3 separate regions of the Homo sapiens genome follow, and regions 1 and 3 are each linked to region 2. The links come from fine-mapping of genetic effects on gene expression. A gene starts in region 2. Each other region holds a variant in brackets. All regions are shown on one strand. Distances are between the middles of the regions.

Region 1 (2,660 bases), 160 kb after region 2:
CCTCTCCACCGGCTCCAATCTTCCTCCCTCTCTGGTGGGTGGCTCTCCTTCCCCCTTCTCCCTTTCCAGCTCTTTGGCCCACTTTTGAGCATCAGTTTCTTTTCACTCCTTCTTCATGTGCTATTCCTTCCAAATCTTTCCCACCTTCTTCCTTCTCTCCTCTGTCTTTTCCTCTCCCTCTTCTGTTGTTCTCTGGTTTCCATCTGTTTCTCCTTCTCCTTCCCCATTTCTCACTATCCTCTCTTCTGTCTCCTCACTTACTTCTCCATCCCTCCTCTCTCCAGCCCTCTCTCCCTCCTGTCTGCATGAGCCAGAGCTCACTTCTGCATGAACATGGGCCTCATGCTAGCCTTGGCCTTGCCTGCTGGGAACAATGCCTGGAATAACTAGACTAACATTCAGGGTCCCCTGAGGAGATGCAGGCCTTTGCAATGAGGGTGCTCAGGAGGGCTCTGGACAGTCCAGCACTCCGGCCACCCTGGCCAGACTGCCTGGGCTGCAGGGCTAGGTCTCGGCAGGAGCCAGGCTGAGCTTTGCATGGGGCCACCAGACACAACACAGAGTGGTGCCCCAGCCCCTGCTGCTCTGTCCACTCTAGAGCATGGCACACCCTGGGGACAGCGTACCCCCTCTGGTCCCACTCCTAATCTCTGATCCCATGGCCAAGAGTCAGAAGCCCTGGGTTGGGGTCCTGGCCCTGCCTGAGACCACCTCTGTGACCTTGGGCAAGTTTCTTAACTGTTTAGAGCTCAATTTCCCAGTCTGAGAAGTGGACAGATGATAGTCCTGTCCTGTTGTGTATTTTGCACGGTGGTTTGACATGCCCTGGACCTTGTGGATGCTTCACTGGGGTCACAGTAATTCATTTGAGAATGATGCCGTCCACTAACATCTACCCCTGGCCTCTGGGACACGCAGGCCCTTAGGCGTTGAGCCCTGGCCAGGGAATCACCTCTTCCTTCCCCTGCTCCTCTGACACTGGAGGCTGGGTCAGGGAAGATGCCATGCTCAGGCCTGCCCTACACCATGCCCCTGAGCAGCTCCAGGAAAAGGCCTAGGGGAAATGGGAACTGTTGATTCCCAATGTCAGTTATCTGGTGCCTCCATGGTCCCTTCTTCTCCCAGTCCAGGGATGATCAGGAGATGGCTCTAGCAGACTGCTCCCTTCAACCGCCCCTCCCTCCTTTCTTCTTCCTCTGCCCTTCTCTCAGCCCAGTGGTGGGGAGTGTAGTGTTCAGCTGGGCCTGGGTAGGGGCAGGTTCTGGGATGGTGGGCCTGCCTCAAGGGGAGCTGGCATGGCTTGCCCTAGGGCTGCTAGTGTGATCGCCGTGTGGCTTTCTGGCACCCTGGCCCAGCAGGTGGCCTCCCGGATCCCCTCGCTTCTGGAGCCCCAGGCATGCTGTCGGACACCCAGCCCTGCTACCTGGACCTGAGGAATCCAGTCTTTTGGAAATCGGAAGACTGGAAAGAAGAGC[T/C]GGGTCTGTGAGGGTGGCAGTGGCCAGTCTGGGGGGTGCAGAGGAGGCACATCATGAAGCCTGACACCAGGGTACTCGTCACGTGATCCAGGGGTGGTGGGCAGCAGTGCTTTGCCAAAGTACATGTATCGGTCTGTGTCAGGGCTACAGCTCCCAGAATTGCAGGGTGTGCGAGTGTGCGTGTGAGTGTGTGTGCGTGTGTGTGTCAGATGAAGGGGATTAATTGCCTCCAGTCTGGCTCATGCTAGGGGAGCCTTGGAGTGAGCTGTTGTCCAGCACAGCACTGTCCTGGCAGAAGAGTGACGCCTCCCTGGGAAGGGGGCTGCTCTGGTGCCCTGCTCCTCAGGTCTGGGGGCCTGTGTGGAACCCTGGGGCTGGGATAACTGCTCATCCTGGCAGGGCTGTGGGGAAGGCCTGATGCCCGTGTATGAAGCAGCCCTTAGAGAACGCCCAGGGCTCCTTGAACATAGGGTGTTAGGGTCCTAAAGATACTTTGTTGTCATAAGGGTACCCCAGCCTTCTCAGCCTCCTGGGAGCTTCTCTTCCTTTCTTCCTCTGGCCACACGGCCTCCTGCTGGGGTAGGGGCTGGCCCTAGAGGTTCTGAGGGTGACCCAGTGGCCCCACTATGTACCCCCATCATCCCAGTGTCCTGCTGCCATTTCTGTTAGGCTGTGTGTGTGTGTGTGTGTATGTACATGCAAGCATGCACATGTGTGTCTGTGCAAGGCACCTGCCTCTGCCTAGGTGGGTGTAGGAGACAGAGGCCCTGAGAGAGAGAATGGGGCCAAAGACTGAGAAAGTCCTGGGGTGGAGGGTGGTGGCGGGAGGGAGGGAGGTGGGGAGAGCAGGCCTATTTTTATTATCAGTCAGACTCTGGGACGTGAGAGAGGGTGTTCTCTCCATGACACTGGTTGTCAGCTTGTGTCCAGACACCCTAGCTTGGCTAAGGAACAATGGGGCTCTCTTCTCTCCCCTCTGCCACGCCAGTCTCCCCTCCCATAGAGCAAGACAAGAGAGAGGGAACATGTCTCTCCAGGCACTCCAGGCGGATCTGGGCTTGCCAAGGGGGACAACAGTGGGACACTGTGTTCAAAGAATGTGAGTGGCCCTGACTGGCCATTGGTGCCATGGGGCCATTGGTGCTCTGCAGGGGAGGGGCTGGCCCCGTGGGAGTGGAATGCAGG
Region 2 (2,660 bases):
TGCTGGATTCCCCCTTAGTGCTCCGTGGGAATACTTTTGGGTTTTGACCCAGCCTCCTTTCCACCCTCTAGACCCCCAACAATTGTCCCTGGGCAGAGGTGGGGGCGAGGGGAGGGGAGGGCTGGTGGGCAGGGGACACTGAGGGGAAGAAATAGGCCTGTGGAATGGTGGGAGGGGAGAACTGGGCCCAGGGAGGGGGAGAGGGGAGGAGGGGGAGGAAGTGGGGAAATGCAAACCAAATGTTGGCCCCGGGTACAGTCAAGAAAAACACACTCTCGCGGGAGCCTGGAGCGGGGCTCCCTTTCAGAAGGGCAGGAAAGGCTGGGACAGATGTTTGCAGGAAAGAAAGAAAGAAGGGGGAAAAAAAAAGAAATAGGAAAAAAATTGGAATGAAACCCACAGCCTGGGGGCAGGGCCATTCTTCCCCAGTCTCGGGCCCTATTTCTTCTGTGTTAAGGCCTGTCCTGGGCTCTGAGCTTGGCGCGTGGGCACCAGAGTCTGTCCCAGTCTGTGTGTGCAAATGCATGTGTGTTCCGAGGAGGCCAGGAAGGCAGGCACGGGTACTCAGAGAAGGGGAGGGGCCAAGGCACCCTGAGTGTGCTGATTGTGTGGGCCTGGGGCTGTCTGTTCATCCATCAGTGGTCTGGAGGGTTCCAGGAGTGAAGGCCCCCAGGCTGGTTTGCCAGGGGCGGGGGTCTGCAGTGAGGAGGGAGGACTCCAGGCCTACCAGCACCAGATCAGAAGACTGAGGAGCCTTGGTGGCACACAGGGGTTGTGTGTCCGGGGGTGGGGGGCACGGCCTGGGGGGGCCCTGCCTCTGGTAGCTTTCCCTTTTCCCTGTCCCCTTTACACCCCCTGCAAAGCAGGGTTCCTGACCCTCAAGGCCACCGGTGGAGCCTGGGAGGAGGGAGGAGAGAGGAGGCTGGGACGAGGGGTGGAGTGGGGGGAGGAGGAGGAGGAGGGAGGGTGAGCTGGAGGCAGCAGGGCGAGAGGCCCAGCAGATGCTGGCGGAGCCGGAGCAGCCGCGGACTCAGAGAGCCCTTCTGCCAGCGCCGCGGGGACTCTAGCTTCAGGGGCTCTTCACAGGCCCTGGGCGTGCCTCAGTGACGGGACCCAGCAAAGATGACGTGGATCTGTCTGTCCTGCATGCTCTGGGTAGGTCTGGCTGCTTTAGCTGCGACGTTACTCTTCCTCAAACCCCCCGCCCCCCACCGGCCCCTGCCACCTTATCCTTTTGCTGAGAGCCCGGGGTCGGGGGGTGTCAGTCTTGAAGGAGGGGCCTTTCTGTCTCTGACCTACAGAAGGACAGACTGACTTGAGCAACCCTCAGCCGGAAGACTTTCCCCACCAACAGGGCCCAGGCCCAGGGTCCCGGGTCAGTACATCCCCTGCCCCACCCCCCCACCCCCCAATGGAGTCCCAGAGCTGTAAGTGGAAGGAGGCCACAGAGAAGTTTGCTTCTCTTTAGAGCCTTTCCTCCCGACTTGCATCCTACAATGGGGTGAAAATTCTTCACCGCCCCCCCTCAGTTGCTGAGCCCAAGATCTTGAGGAGGAGGCAGTGGTGGGGCTGGGGAGCAAAGAATAGTAGTCCAAAATATTAAGTCTGGAAGAGCTGGGCTGTGGGAGAATTCTCAGAGTCCATCCCTTTTATTCCTTCTACACCCAGTTTCAGCTTCCACCCACTGCCATCCCTTCCTCCACAGCCCTCCCCTGCTACCAAGACCTCTCCATCCTGGAGGAGGGAGCCATGGCCCGCTCTTCCCCCTTTCTCTCTTGGCTCCAGGTTCAGGGAGGTGGGTTTCAGGATGGGGATGCCAGGGGGGCCAGCAGAGAGGCCTGGGGGCCACGTGGTGAAGGTTAAAAGTCTTAAGGCCAGACCTGGGCTGAGGCTCCTGGGTAAAGGGGGATGGGAGAGGGCTGCCTGCTGCAGAAGGGCTGGGGGTCAGAGGAGGAGAGGACCCCTTCCTCAGAGGGGCTCCTGTGGGGCTGTCTTGGCCAGGCAAAGGCATGCATGGGGTCAGGAGGGTGAGGAAGTCGTCCCTGGCTGAGGTTACTGTTGGGCTCTGAGAGAGTGATGGCTGGTTTGGGGGAGGGGGCTTCAGGGCTGTGATCCAGATGTGGCCTTTCCTGTCCCTTTCCTTGTTCTGGCCAGTCCTCGGGAGGGCCCTCTTGGCCCAGGCAAGCCCATGCTGGGGGCAGTTGTGGGAACACAAACTCGGGCAGCCAGGTGTCCTCTGGGCAAAGAAAGAAAGGGTGGGGGAGGGGGCCTGGAATGAGGCGGTTTGGGTGGCATGTTGGGCTGGGGTGCTGGGATGGATTGGATTAATAGATTGAGAGTGACTGGGGAGGCCTGCACACAGGATGCATTTGTGGTTTACTGGGCTGGTGTTGACATCTGGGAAATGGGAGCCTTGGCCAGGTTCGTCTCTGTGCTGAGGACAGAGGTAGGCAGGAGGGAGCTCTGCAGCAAGAAGGATGGCAGGTAGACGTCCAGGGGTGACACAAGAAGGATGGCAGGTAGACCTCCAGGGGTGACGAGCTGCTGTGACTGGAGAGAGGGCTCTATAGATCCCTTCAGCTGACTGATACTGGGAAAAGTGCCTCATCCTGGTGAGCCTCTGCTTTCCCGTTGGTGAAATGAGGATTGCAGAGAAACAG
Region 3 (2,660 bases), 190 kb after region 2:
GCAGGTTTGTGCAGTGAATTCTTCACTTATCGCCAGAACTTGCCACCTTTGCCTCTACTTAGAAAGCTCATTGTCTAAACACAAAGGCCAACTTTGAACTTGACTGTGTGCACAGTGGCCCTGGATGTTTGAGGCAGATTTAGAATGTTTTGGGCAGCCTCAGATGGGCCCCAGCTCCCTAGATTCTCCCGGCGTCACTCTCAGGTCCTGCCCTGAGCCTGCCAAGCCAGGACACCTAGAATGACCCTGCACTGCCTGTTTCCTGCCGCCCACCGGGGACATCTGGTTCCCAGCCCCTCTCCTTGAAGGATGCAAAACTTCTAGTAGCTGGGACACTTCCTGTTTCCCACCATCTTCCCTGCTTAAAATAGCCTTTGGAGTCAACACAGGAAGGCACGTGGGACTGCAGCCGCCTCTGACAGCTCGTTAAACAGGCCACGGCAGCAGTGGGGCCTGGGGCTTCAGACAGAGAAAGGCAGCCTGCAGCAGTTGCATGGCCCAGCTGCCTAACCCAGAGACCTTCCTTAGCACACGGCTGCCAGGAAAGGGAGCTGACCTCTCCCCTCACACTCGCCCGGAGACAGATCCCAGAAGCATAAGGGAGTGTAAATCATAGGTTGAAATTGACTAAGCACTGGAGACACAACTTGTGTCTCCTGATCTGCTCTCTTAACTTTGCAGTGTCTTTCATGCCAACTTCTGTCTCTGAAGACAGGAGAGGAAAAATGTGGAATCCTCATCTTTTTCTGTTCTCCCTCCCTTTTTGTGTTTTCTTTGGTGCCAAAAGCTGAAGGAAGAGGTTGAGAGTGAGGGCCGCACATCCTGATGCTTAGACAGGAAGATACAGTTTAGCTGGTCCTAAACTGACTGCTAGGGCCTCTTACCAAGGTCACCATCTGTGTGACTTGGGCAAGTCACTTCTCATCCCTGAATTCCTCCTTTTATGTAAAATTAGGCAGTTGGACTGTGTCCTGTCTGAGCTCCCTCCAGAATCTAATGTTCTATGACAAATTCCCAAGGTCTGCAGAGTCTGGGCATGGGTGTGTGTGGGGGTGCTGTCTGCCTGAGAAGTGGGGTGCCTGACATGCAGTAGATGGCCTCTAGATTCTAGGCCAGCCATCACCTGTTTGATCCAAAGAGAAGTGATTTTTTTTTTGTTCTATGTGATGCAGAACATAGGC[C/T]TTCCCTGTGGAAAGTGAGGAGAGGCCTGGGGAAAAGGGGGAAGAAATGGATCTTTCTGCCCTCATCTTCATGGTGGGTATGCTGAAGTTGAGAAACTGAACCTGTGGAGAAAGGTTCTAGAAGCAAGTGTTTTAGGCCATGGGAGAAAAGCTGTAGGAAGGCTTTAGTCACAGTCTTCTAGGGAAAGGGGGACACGGGGTGGAGGAAGGCTTTCAGTGGGCTCTGTGGGAATGCAGTGCCAGGCCCTCCACCAGGAGGTGGCTCAGCCACCCAGATGGCGGGCAGGGGATAGGGGATGGATGAGGAGGCCGAAGGTCCCTTCCACTGTGTTCGCATGGTGTTCGAGGACATCAGCTTTTGATGTCAGTTTCCTGGGGCTGCCATAACAAAGGACCATGTGCTTAGTGGCTTATAAATGACAGAAATATGTTCTCTCACAGTTCTGGAGGCTAGAAGTCCAAAATCAAGGTGTTGGCAAGGTTGGCTCCTTCCTGATGTTCTAGGGGAGAATCTGTCCCAGGCCTCTCTCCCAGTTTCTTGTGGCTGCCAGCATCCTTGGTGTCCCTTGGCATGTAGACGCATCACCCCAGTCTCTGCCTGCACCTTCCATGGTGCTCTCCCCTGTGTGTATCTCTGTCTCCTCTCCTTGTAAGGACACCAGGCATACAGGCATACTGGATTAAGGCTCACCCTAATCCTGTGTGACCTCATCTTAATTTGTCTACATCTGCAAAGACCCTATTTCCAAATAAGGTCAAATTCACAAGCACTGGGGGCCAGGACTTTGATGTATGTTTTGGGTGAACACAATTTAACCCATAACACTTTCTTCCCTTCTCCTGCTTTAGACAACAGCCCGGAGACGCGGGCTAAAGTGAAGTTTGTCCAGGACACTTCTAAGTATTGGTACAAGCCTGAGATCTCCAGGGAGCAGGGTGAGTGCTGGGCTCTGTGGTGCATCAGAGGCCATAGCTGGCTGAGGCCTGCTGTGTCTTCCCTGGGCAAGGAACAGAGGCAAATTCAGTCCTCTTTGTAGCAGGGGGTCATCACAGAGGGGGCTGGGGTTGAAGCTGGACAGTAGGAAGCACTTCCTGCAGTGAAGTGTGGGAACACAGAAGCAGTAGTTGTAGACACCTCTTGGAAGGGTTCTTAAAAACAGCAAAGCCTTGGTTTTCCTGGGCAAAGTAAAAGGTCTGCTAAGATAATATGAAACCTTAGCTCTCTGTCTGCCTGATGTGGGAGGTTTTTGCATTTTACAGGGAGAGAGAACAAAGTTGGGAATAGGGGAATGATTCTCAGGGGAAGGCTGGGTGTGGGACAGGGGTCAGCAACGGCAGCCCATGGGTCAAATCTGGATGCTGCCTGCTTTTGTAAATGAAGTTTTACTGGGGCGCCCCCACACCTGCTGGCTTGCATCCTCCCTGTGCTGCTGTCCTGCTGCAGTGGCAGAGTGGAGTAGTTGTAGCAGAGGCTGCATG

What was found. PIP is the estimated chance that this variant, and not a neighbour inherited with it, causes the effect.
Region 1: its variant is fine-mapped to the expression of TNS1 in whole blood (TOPMed, PIP above 0.99).
Region 3: its variant is fine-mapped to the expression of TNS1 in whole blood (INTERVAL, PIP 0.99).

What each region holds. Positions count from the first base shown.
Region 1 is chr2:217,838,573-217,841,232 of GRCh38, reverse strand. All of the region lies in intron 19 of TNS1 (tensin 1), which reads left to right. Among named protein-coding and RNA genes, the nearest start is that of SNORA115, 6.2 kb to the right of the region's middle. The variant T/C (reference allele first, on the strand shown) is at 1,476.
Region 2 is chr2:218,001,335-218,003,994 of GRCh38, reverse strand. TNS1 (tensin 1) reads left to right here and starts at 1,000. Exons shown (of 33, transcript NM_001387777.1): 1 at 1,000-1,155. The coding sequence starts at 1,123. RefSeq lists enhancers at 1,555-2,055, 2,056-2,556.
Region 3 is chr2:217,814,369-217,817,028 of GRCh38, reverse strand. TNS1 (tensin 1) reads left to right here. Exons shown (of 33, transcript NM_001387777.1): 25 at 2,031-2,117. Among named protein-coding and RNA genes, the nearest start is that of SNORA115, 18 kb to the left of the region's middle. RefSeq lists an enhancer at 2,453-2,660. The variant C/T (reference allele first, on the strand shown) is at 1,182.